Regions from separate parts of the Homo sapiens genome. Here region 2 is linked to region 1. The links come from fine-mapping of genetic effects on gene expression. A gene starts in region 1. The other region holds a variant in brackets. All regions are shown on one strand. Distances are between the middles of the regions. Region 1 holds the start of AGGF1 (angiogenic factor with G-patch and FHA domains 1). Region 2 overlaps AGGF1 (angiogenic factor with G-patch and FHA domains 1).

Region 1 (5,380 bases):
TACTCAACATGAATTTTGCCCTTCTTCCTTACTTGTAGAACCCCTATATTATTAGGAGAATAATGCGTCTAGCTTAGAAAAACACACATATACACATAATTCCCAGCCCCACTTGCAGCAAGGGGTGGCTATTGATAGGTAGACAGGAACCATTGAGTGGGGCTTTGGGAAAGTCCTTTCATCCCTTGCCATCTTGCACCATGGATCGACCTGGAGGCTCTGGAAACATGCTCCGAGAATAGCAGAGCAGAAAGACATACCGAGCCTGGGTCCCTGAAGAACTGTGGAGTCACTGGCCATGGACTGCCCCTCTCTAGGCTTCTGTAATGTAACAGGATAACACCCTAATTTGTTTAATAAGCCACTATAGACCACCTCTGATACTAGCACCTTAATGCAATTCCTGATATTCAAGGCTTTTTCTAAAAAAATGTCATTCTTTTCTAATGGTCAGAGGTAGGATACAGACTGGTATTACAAGGTAAAGATAACTTAGCCTTGAACAGATTAAGACAAATAAGAGGAGCACTGCTTCAAGTAGCAGTCAATAAGCTTATTTATTTTTTCTCCAGTTAATTACTAAAAACTGAAATATCATCTTAAAGATACCTTTCAAATGGTATTTATGGAATTTCTTATCCCCTAAAGAAAATAGGTGGAGAAAGTAGAAAATAGCATCTTTTTAAAAGGACTTCAATATGTTCATTAATGGAGTCATAATGCATCAAGGGAAGTCAGAAATTTTTTGCAATACATCTTTTTTTTTGCATCACAGGGGACATACCATGTCTTCTCACTAAACTTCCTTTGATGGCTTAAGGTTACTCTTGACATGACAATAAGGTAGAATCTCTATGTTTCCAGATACAGTGCCTTGTGAAGAACTCTTCAGGCCTAAGGAGGAATGTGTACAGGCCCTAGAGAGGGCAGGTCTCTGCTGGAAAGCTCACTGTTTATGAATAATCTAGTGGGCAGTGCACAAGACAAAAATACATACAGAGCCATATTTTAAAATTTAGATTTTATTATTATTTATGTATGGTGAGGCCAACAGATCAGGAGATGGTCTGCTATCAAAAAGACAGTTTATTATTCACCCAGCCCAAGAGGAGGATGCACACCAAGCCACACAAGGCAATGTGGAGAAGCACCAAGGTCCAAAGGAGGCAGAAGGAGTGGGAGGAAACATGGCAAAAAACATTATGTGATTTTTGCAGGAAGGAATGGACAAATCAGGATAAGCAGGTTTAGTTTGCATAATTTCAGTGGGATCTGAGATGTAGGAGTTGTTCCTAGTTGTCTGGTACTTTGCCCTGGAGTGATTAGGGCAGGGGAATATTGGCATGGAGTGTAACAGCCTGATAAAGAAGGTAGATGATCAGTGTGTGGCATGCTGGGTGAGTTGTTTGCTATGTCTAGGAATTAGCTAACCCTTGGAGGGGTTATCTCCCTGGTCAGGGAGACCCCAGATGCCAGAGCATCAAGAATACAAAAAATAAGAAAATATAGTTAATGGAAGTGGCCACTGATCTAAGACACCAAACAGGATTCTCTTGTTCAGCTGTGTTCAGCATTTACGGATACTGCTCTGCGACAGGCACTGTGCTGGGCCCTGAGAGAGGAGCATCTGCATGACACAGCTGCTGACCTCCACAAATCTCAGGCCCAGGACTCTGAGCTCATGATCTAATTCTAAATGACTTTGGCAAAGGAAGGAAGTGTGTTCCAAAGAAGGCCACATCAGTTTAAATATTGGCAAACCAATGCCAGGGTCATGCAGACAAAAGACCAAATAAATGCACCAAACCAGAGCATTTTTCTCCCCTTTTCCACAGAATATTGTCTCTCTCTTATTTTCCCACCAGGGATGCTCCTTTTTGCGACTCAGACCTAATGTACTTGCTCTATTTTCCCGGGGGGTCTAAACTCAGGAACCAGAAGAATGACTAAATGAGAAATAAAAGTAAAATTCTGAGCCCCTGAACTGACTGAATAGACCCATTGTTCACTACATAGAAAGCCAGTCATTGAGACAAGGAGTATTGCCAGGGAAGAAGGTTCTATTTGGGTGCTGCAGCCAAGGAGAATAGGAAATCAGTCTCAAATCCATCTCCTCAACCAACTAAAATTAGAGGTTTATATGGCAAGGGAGAAATGTGACTACATGTGAGAAAACAGGAATTAGTGAGCGGTAAGGATGAGGACTTGTTCAACAGGCAGCAGGTGGCTGGTTAGGCAATCATGATGGGTGAGGGGTATGGTGCCTCATTGTCCAGATGCAGTGATCTGGTAAGTTTCAATTCCTTGATACTATCTGGGAGGCCTCATGGTTGGTTTCCCAAGAAAGGAACTCAGATAAGAAAGATGTAACTTTCTGAAGTTTTAAGACTGGGAGGGTAAATTTCCAGGTTTATTCAAAAGAAACCATAAACATCAGTTCTATAGGACAGTTGGGCTGATTTCACACCAACCAGCATTCCTTCCTGATAAGAGACCACCAACCACAGAGAAGTTCTGGCCAATCTACCAGGGACTCACAGCGAGGGTTTTCATGTCCTCTGCTTTGCCATTTGACATCAGAGGGCTGAAAACTTCACACTGGGATCATGCTAACACCACCATTTTTTGAATATGGGTCCCATAGAGAGGCAGGAAGCTTAATTGTGCATGTGCATATTTCTCCTTTCATAAATATTCATGAATCCTCCTACAGCTCATTGAATATATTTGGCCACCCTGCTCAGCATAAATTTCTGTTCCCTTTGTCCTTCCTTCCAAGTGTCTGTTCTCAGCTTCTGACCAGAGGCTATGCTTCCAAGCCTGTCAGAAAGGCCACCCTGCAGGCTGTAACCCTTCATGAGAAATAAAGCCCTTTTCTAAATTTATTAACCTCCTCATTCTTCAGTTGACATAAGTAGAGCATCATAGTCCCCACAAATCATTTCTGGGATACTCTGTTCTTATTTGTAAAACAAGGAGATAGGAAATGCATGCTATACTAAAAGTTTGTTCAAAGAACATCCGCACGTGCAAATGTCTGAGACCAGAGGCTGCAAGCCTCCCTGTCGCTCTTAGGGCTTCGGTAGCCACATTGCCACAGCTCTCCACGCCCTCAGGTAACGCCCCTCCGCAGGCCGAGACGTCGGCACGTACACTGTCAGGTCTTCCCGCTTTCCGTCGCTTCCTGTTCCGTCTTGGTCCCGCCTGCCGCTGGCGCCGTTGTTTCCGGCTCAACTGGGGAGCTGCTGGAGCTCTTCTGGCCTCTGGTTTTCCGACTGCTTATCCGACGCTCCTCCCTCTGTCTCTGTAGCTGGAGAAGGTAGTTTCCAGGAAAGTTTTCCGGTTTGCAGGCCGCGCACATCGGGCAGGGGCCATCCTCGGTCCCCTTGCTCGTTGCTCGCAGCCCCGTTCGGCTACAAGTGAGTTTCAGGGCGTCATGGCCAGGGGCCACCGCGGCCAGCCGGGTGTGAGGCTGCCTTTCGCTGCCCGCGCGCTCCAGTGGTCTCTGGGTCCGCCGGCGTCCGTTTCGGCCTGAACGCAGCCCCTCCGCGGCGACGAGCAGTCTCGCGCCGGAGCTCATGGCCTCGGAGGCGCCGTCCCCGCCGCGGTCGCCGCCGCCGCCCACCTCCCCCGAGCCTGAGCTGGCCCAGCTAAGGCGGAAGGTGGAGAAGTTGGAACGTGAACTGCGGAGCTGCAAGCGGCAGGTGCGGGAGATCGAGAAGCTGCTGCATCACACAGAACGGCTGTACCAGAACGCAGAAAGCAACAACCAGGAGCTCCGCACGCAGGTGCGCGGTCCTCCTCAGCCCCGCGCCCCATCCAGCCCAGGCGAGGCCTTCGAAGCCCGTGATAGCCTCGGAAGGGGTCCCTGGCAGGGGCTCAGAACTACTGTAGAGTACTTAAAGTAAATAAGTAGAAGCTCAGCGCAGTTACAATTCCAAGTACCTTAGGAGCAAACCTGAGTTCAGGTTACTTGATTTAAATCAATGTCTCGCGGCTGGCGTGAATTGAACTTAAGTACTGTGGCTACATTGTCTTCATTCTCACTTGACCTAACATCCCATTGGCAGTAGGCGCATTTACTGTAGATCACATTTGAGTTTATTAAAATGCTGGACTTGAGTCAGAATCCCATCTCTGCTATTCACTGGGTGTGTGAACTTATATACCGAGTCTCAGTTCCCCATTAAATGAGAATGATAGCTCACAGTAGTAAAGGTGAAGTAAAACAAACAATTTTACAAACTTTTGAATGCTATACCTGTTTAAGGTTGCTCTTCTGGGCGTTTATCATCTTCGGCTTTCTTGTGTAAGTAGGGACGATATATAACTGCTTTTGTTGGAGACGTTAAGCAGCTTATTTCGTTTCCAAGATGGTAGGGGCAAATGTTAATACTTAAACTGTCACATTAAAAACAACCTTGGCTGGACGCGGTAGCTCACGCCTGTAATCCCAGCACTTTGGGAGGCCGAGGCGGGCAGATCACCAGGTCAGGAGTTCGAGAGCAGTCTGGCCAGCATGGTGAAATACAAAATTTAGCCGGGCGTCTCTACTAAATACAAAAATTAGCCGGGCGTGGCGGCGGGCACCTGGAATCGCAGCTAGTCGGGAGGCTGAGGCAGGAGAATTGCTTGAACCTAGGTGGTGGAGGTTGCAGTGAGCCGAGATCGTGCCACTGCACTCCAGCCAGGGCGACAGAGTGCAACTCTGTCTCAAAATAAAAACCAAAAAACCAAGAGCATAGTATTTTTTTCTACCTTGTTGGCAGGCCCTCTCTGCCAACAGATTATTTCCACATAGTAACTAGTTTCAATTTGACCGTTGTCTAGTCCTTCATAATTTATTGGTGGTTTCCTAAAACCAGTATATAGGCTGAACACTGAAACGTCATCAGACTTCTTTGTTTTGTTACCAAATGGACTATGAAAATAACTGTTGAGTTGCAATGACTTTGTATGACCATTACATGGAGTTCCTGACATGACATTATTGGAAAGTTTTTGTTTAGTCAATTTAAACACCTACGGTGTGTAATAACTATGCTAGGAAAATACAAATATGGTAAAAAAAAAAAAAAAAAAAAAACAGGGAGAGGTGGCTGGGCGCGGTGGCTCACGCCTGTAATCCTAGCACTTTGGGAGGCCGAGGCGGGCGAATCACGAGGTCAGAAGATCGAGACCATCCTGGCTAACACAGTAAAACCCTGTCTCTAGTAAAAATACAAAAAAAATTAGCCGAGCGTGGTGGCGGGCGCCTGTAGTCCCAGCTACAGGCTGAGGCAGGAGAATGGCGTGAACCCGGGAGGCGGAGCTTGCAGTGAGCCGAGATTGCGCCACTGCACTCCAGCCTGGGCGACAAAGCAAGACTCCGTCTCAAAAA
Region 2 (5,380 bases), 38 kb after region 1:
TATTAAACCCCTTTGCAGATCTAAAGTCTCAGGGTTCCACTATTAGTGGTTAAAGTACTGAATAATGTCTGGGTCTATTTCCATCTGTAAAATAAGAATATTTGTCTCACGTGTCTGTCATGAATAGCAAATGAGAAAATGTATATAAAAGCACTTTGTAAATTGTAAAAGTAGTACAGATGTGAGCTTCTATTTGTTTAGAAGCATAAATGTGAATTATATACAGTTTGAATTTTGCATAAATTTTTTGTGTCTAATTTTAAATATTTGTTTAATCACACTACACATTTTCTGAGTAGCGTTTAAGTATGTATTTTAAGTGGAGCTGCAAGTTCTGAATTTTAAGAAATCTAACATCTAATATTTTTGCCAGAACATAAGCTGGCAAAGTTGAGAACAGAAGAAACTTTCAACATTAGAGTAAAATAGAAATTTTTTCCAGTATTAAATAGAGGAAGCACCCTTATCCTCAAAAAGAGGAACTTTTTTCTGCTTTTGAAACAAGTGTTACTTCTGATGTGTCATTTTTATCCTGCATTTATAGAACGTAATGGTTTACGCAAATCAAAAACCTTCTGACTTTCCATAGAATATTTTTAATTTTTTATGATTTTTATTTATTTATTTTTTTGAGACAGAATCTTGCTCTGTTGCCCAGACTAGAATGCAGTGGTGCAATCTCAGCTCACTGCAACCTCAACCTCCTGGGTTCAAGCGATTTTCGTGCCTCAGCCTCCCAAGTAGCTGGATTACAGGTGCATGCCAACATGCCTGGCTAATGTTTGTATTTTTAGTAGAGATGGGGTTTCACCATGTTGGCCAGGCTGGACTCCAACTCCTGACCTCAGGTGATCTGCCTGCCTCAGCCTCCCAAAGTGCTGGGATTACAGGCGTGCGTGAGCCACCATGCCTGTCCAAAAGATTATTTCTTAATTTGACATATTTTTAAAGAGCAGGCAAAGAAGATAGAAATCTCAAACAAGGGAAAGCAAGAGACGTTGGAGATTGCATACGAAGGCCATTCTGTAAAGTTGCAGGACAGAGGGATGTCCTTGGCAGGGGGCAAGAAAGCACTTGTGGACCCAAAACTCAAAGGCAGTCTCAGGAACAGTTGAAAGTATTTTCCCCACCATCTTGTTGTAAGTGTGCTTCTTTTATTAGGGCATAACTTATATTTCTGCTCTGAATCTTTGATTCAAACATTTCATTTTACTTTTTCAGCCTTTAAAGTGGAAATGGATTTTGATTCTTTAAAATGAGGCAGTGGTTACTTATATTTCTGTGTGTTTCAGGGCCCAGGCTATCTCTTCTGCTTTTCTGTTTTACTAATCTTAGTGTTGGCTTATGGCCTTGTAGTTGCAAAATGGCTTTTGAAATTTCAGACATCATATTCATACCTAAAGCAAGAAGAAAGAAGAAAGAGCAGAGTGTAGTGTTAGTTCTCTTTTTTTAGGAAAACAACAGCTTACTCAGAAACTGACTTCTTAGGGTCATTAGCCAGAACCAGATAGCATGGCTACCCATAGAAGAGATGCTATAAAAGTGGGTAACAAGATGGTCACATTTGGCTTAAGCCAGTCATGAACCATCACCTGCAGCTGAGAATGTTGCCGTTGGAATGAAATAGGTTCAGTGAACCAAGCAGAAGGGGGCAGTGGATGTTGAATGGGCAGGTAGAGGTAACTGCCAGATAACGTACTTGTCCATCAGTGGGGACTACAGGGTTGCTTAAATTGTGATGCATCCCTACTATGTAATACTTTCTGGCCATTGAAATGAATAAGATAGAACTGTGTATACCCTAGTGTAGAAGAATATCTCACAAAGCAGATTGTAGCAAAGTATATATGGCATAATCCCATTTTTATTTTTAAATTACAAAGGTGTGTATTGAGTTGCTGATAACCCAGAGTGAGCAGACTTTCACATTTTATTATTTCTATATTTGAACTTTTAAAAAGTAAACAGGTGTGTGGTTAATGTGTATGTATATACACACTTGTGGTAAGAATTTACCCAGAAGTGGTTAAATTTGTGGTTAAGCCTTCATGGCTCAAACCCAGGCATTTTTCTCACATATATACCCAGTTTCACTTACCATCTATAAACTCATGACTTCTAGGCTGTCTTAGGTTATTGATTCTGAGCTTATGACTTACATATCCATCTCAGAGTCACTTTAAATGCAACTCCAAGACTAACTCCATAATCTTCTCCAAACCTAGTCTCTTCTAGTTTACTCTCTCCAGCTGGTAACACCATCCATCCAGTTGTGTGAG[T/C]CAGAAGCCTGAGTCAGCCTCTGTTTCACAACCACTAGCTTTTCTCCCCTTTGTCTGTTTCCAATATATTAAATCAGTTCACTGTTACCAGTCACCAAAATTATTCTGAGGGCTTCCTAACTGGTCTTCCTGCAGGCATTCTTTCCTCCATCTTCCACACTGCAGACAACTTCCATCTCATCGTCTCCTGTTTGGCTTCCCATTACTTTGAGGCCATAAAACAAACTCCAGGCCCATAAAACCCTAAGGGATCTGGCCACTGCCAGCTTTCCTGGTCTCATCTTTTGTCACTTTCCTACTTGTTCTCTGGGCCCTAGCATGCTGGCCCCTTTTTCAGTTTGTCAAACACAGCTGCCTTCTCTCATCACAGAGCCTCTTAACATTGTATTACATGTATGGAATGCTCTTCCTCCCCCATTTTACATAGTTAATTCTCACATAGTCTTCAGGTCTCTGCTGATTGAATCTTCAGGGATGCCTCCTTTGAAGCCCTGGACTAGATTAATTGCCTTTGATAAGTATTTTGAAAAACCATTTCTTTCATTTAGACCACTTAGCTTGGTTCACAGTTACATATTAGTGTGGTTAGTGTAATATTTCTCAGTTTCTCTAGATTGTTAAGTGCCATGTGAGCAGGACCTTGGGTATGCTTACTATTGCATCCGTAGAGCCTAGCACCACATCTGGTTTATACAACCATAGGCACTGAAGCACACAATGGGTAACTGCAAGTGGCTTGATGGAGTCTTATCAAGCTGTGACTGAAGAAACATGGGAACTGAGGCTACATAGAGGATCTACAACAATGGCTTTCAAACTATTTTGATGATGATCTACAATGTGAATACAATTTGTATTACAGTTCAGTACACGAGCATGTTCATAGCATATGTAACATAGATTTTGTATACCAGTACTTTGCCATAAGCTCATGTAATACACTCGTTTTCCACATCACTGATTGCATCCACTAAATTGCTTTCATAATGCACTAATGGGCTGTGTCCTACAATCAGATTTTCAAACCTTTTCAAAGAACCCATTGCATTGCCTTAGGAGCTGCAGCTGTGTGAGTCTATGTTTGTGTGATGAGGTGGGGAGAGTTTAGGATGCCAAACTGTGGTGACTCCAGTTCTCAGGCTCATTAACTACAATAGGTCTACATTCATCTGATTTGCAGTTCAAGCTTCCAGATAGGTTTGATTGCATAACAAAGAAGGGGTGAACAAAACCGAGCCTCTTACCTGTAGCCAAAACCGCATATTGTGTTGAGAAATTTACATAATTAAGAAATGAAGGATTTTATCTGTGAGACAATGAGGAATCCACTGAAGGATTTTAAGCAGGAAAGGAACCTCATTAGATTGCTTTATAGCAGAATAACTATGGTTGATTGAAAGGCAGAGTGGTGACTGGAAATCTTGAGTGTAGGTTGACCTCTTTGAGAGTTTGTTCAAATATTTATTGAGCATCCACCAAATGCTGTGCACATCTTGGAAGGCAGGAACCTTCTTTGTCTTATTCACTGCTCTGTCTTCAGCACCTAGCACAGGATTGGATGTTTGGGAGGTCCTCAATAAGCATTTGTTGGTGGAATGGATGGAATGCACATTTGTGTTGCATCTGGCACTGTGCTAGGCCCTTAACATACATTCTTTATTCTGGACACCATTTTATGAATTAGAAAACTGAGGCTTAAGAGGTTTTTATTTTGCTCAAAGTCAAAAAGCCGGTGTGACAGAAGTGGCAGGGCTGAGGTTTCTATCTTGATTCTTTCCATCCCACAGGGATGATTAAGAGCACAGGCTGAAGAGTCTGACTGAGCTGAGTTTAAATTAAAATTCTACCACTTCCAAGCTGAGTGACCTTTAAAAATTTATTTGAACCTCTCTACCCAAGTGTCTTCTATGGAGTTTGTAACTGCCCATCGGGTTCGCCTTGCCTGCTGCCCAGATAAAGCCGATTTATCAAGACAGGGGAATTGCAATAGAGAAAGAGTTTAATTCATGCAGAGCTGGCTAAGTGGGAGATGAGTTTTATTACTCAAATTGGTCTCCCTGAAAATGTGGAGACTGGGTTTTTTTTTTAAGGATAATTTGGCAGATGGGGGCTAGGATAGTGGGGAGTACTGATGGGTTTGGTCGGAGTTGAAATCATAGGGGGTCAAAGTGGGTTCTTCTTGCTGTCTTCTGTTCCTGGGTGAGCCAGGACTGGTTGAGCCAGATTATCAGTCTGGGTGGCTCCAGCTGGTGCATCAGAATGCAGGGTCTGAAAGATATCTCAACCACCAATCTTAGGTTTTACAATAGTGATTTTATCCCTAGGAGCAATTGGAGAGGTTCAAATCTTATGGCCTCTGGTTGCATAACTCCTAAACAATAATTTCTAATCTTGAGGCTAATTTGTTAGTCTTACAAAGGCAGTCTGGTCCCCAAGCAAGAAGGGGGTTTATTTCAAGAAAGGGTTGTTATCATCTTTGTTTTAAAGTTAAAATATAAACTAAGTTCCTCTAAAAGTTAGTTTGGTCTTTGCCGAGGAATGAACAAGGACAGCGTGGAGGATAGAAGCAAGACGGAGTCAGTTAGGTCAAATCTCTTTCACTGTCATAATTTTTGCAAAGGTGGTTTCAAGTTTTGGTGAAGATTAAATGAGATAAGGTTTGTGTGGCACTGAGCACACTGTCTGGTGCATAATAAGCCTCCAAATATTAGTGATTATTAGCATTGTTATTATCCATGCTAGCAATACCAAGGACATGGTTGTAGGAGTAGAATCCCAGAGTAGAGATGGTGGTTATGGAAGTCAGGTAGGATGAGGAATGAGGCTAGCAAGTAGTGGATGGGTCATCCTCATTCCACAAGGCAATAGGAGATAGATGTGGACAAGAAGACTGAGTCAGGAGCTGGCTTTCTAAGTGAATATTGGAGAATGAGGAGGAGATTGGTAGACAATAGTGAGAAAGGACAGAAGTTATTGTAGGTGACTCTCATCATCCTTAAAGGAGGAGGAATGGATTCTACATGACTTTGGAAATGGAGTCGTCTGGAGGAATGATAGGGAGATGTAGCCAGGCAACCCTGGCTCTCAGTACTCTATGGGAG

The links. PIP is the estimated chance that this variant, and not a neighbour inherited with it, causes the effect.
Region 2: its variant is fine-mapped to the expression of AGGF1 in monocytes (TOPMed, PIP above 0.99). The same link has a PIP of 0.9 or more in whole blood.

Annotation. Positions count from the first base shown.
Region 1 is chr5:77,027,189-77,032,568 of GRCh38, forward strand. AGGF1 (angiogenic factor with G-patch and FHA domains 1) reads left to right here and starts at 3,216. Exons shown (of 14, transcript NM_018046.5): 1 at 3,216-3,788. The coding sequence starts at 3,579. RefSeq lists enhancers at 2,874-3,453, 3,093-3,442, 3,454-4,033.
Region 2 is chr5:77,064,971-77,070,350 of GRCh38, forward strand. It overlaps AGGF1 (angiogenic factor with G-patch and FHA domains 1), which reads left to right. Exons shown (of 14, transcript NM_018046.5): 14 at 1-264. Among named protein-coding and RNA genes, the nearest start is that of SNORA47, 13 kb to the right of the region's middle. The variant T/C (reference allele first, on the strand shown) is at 2,280.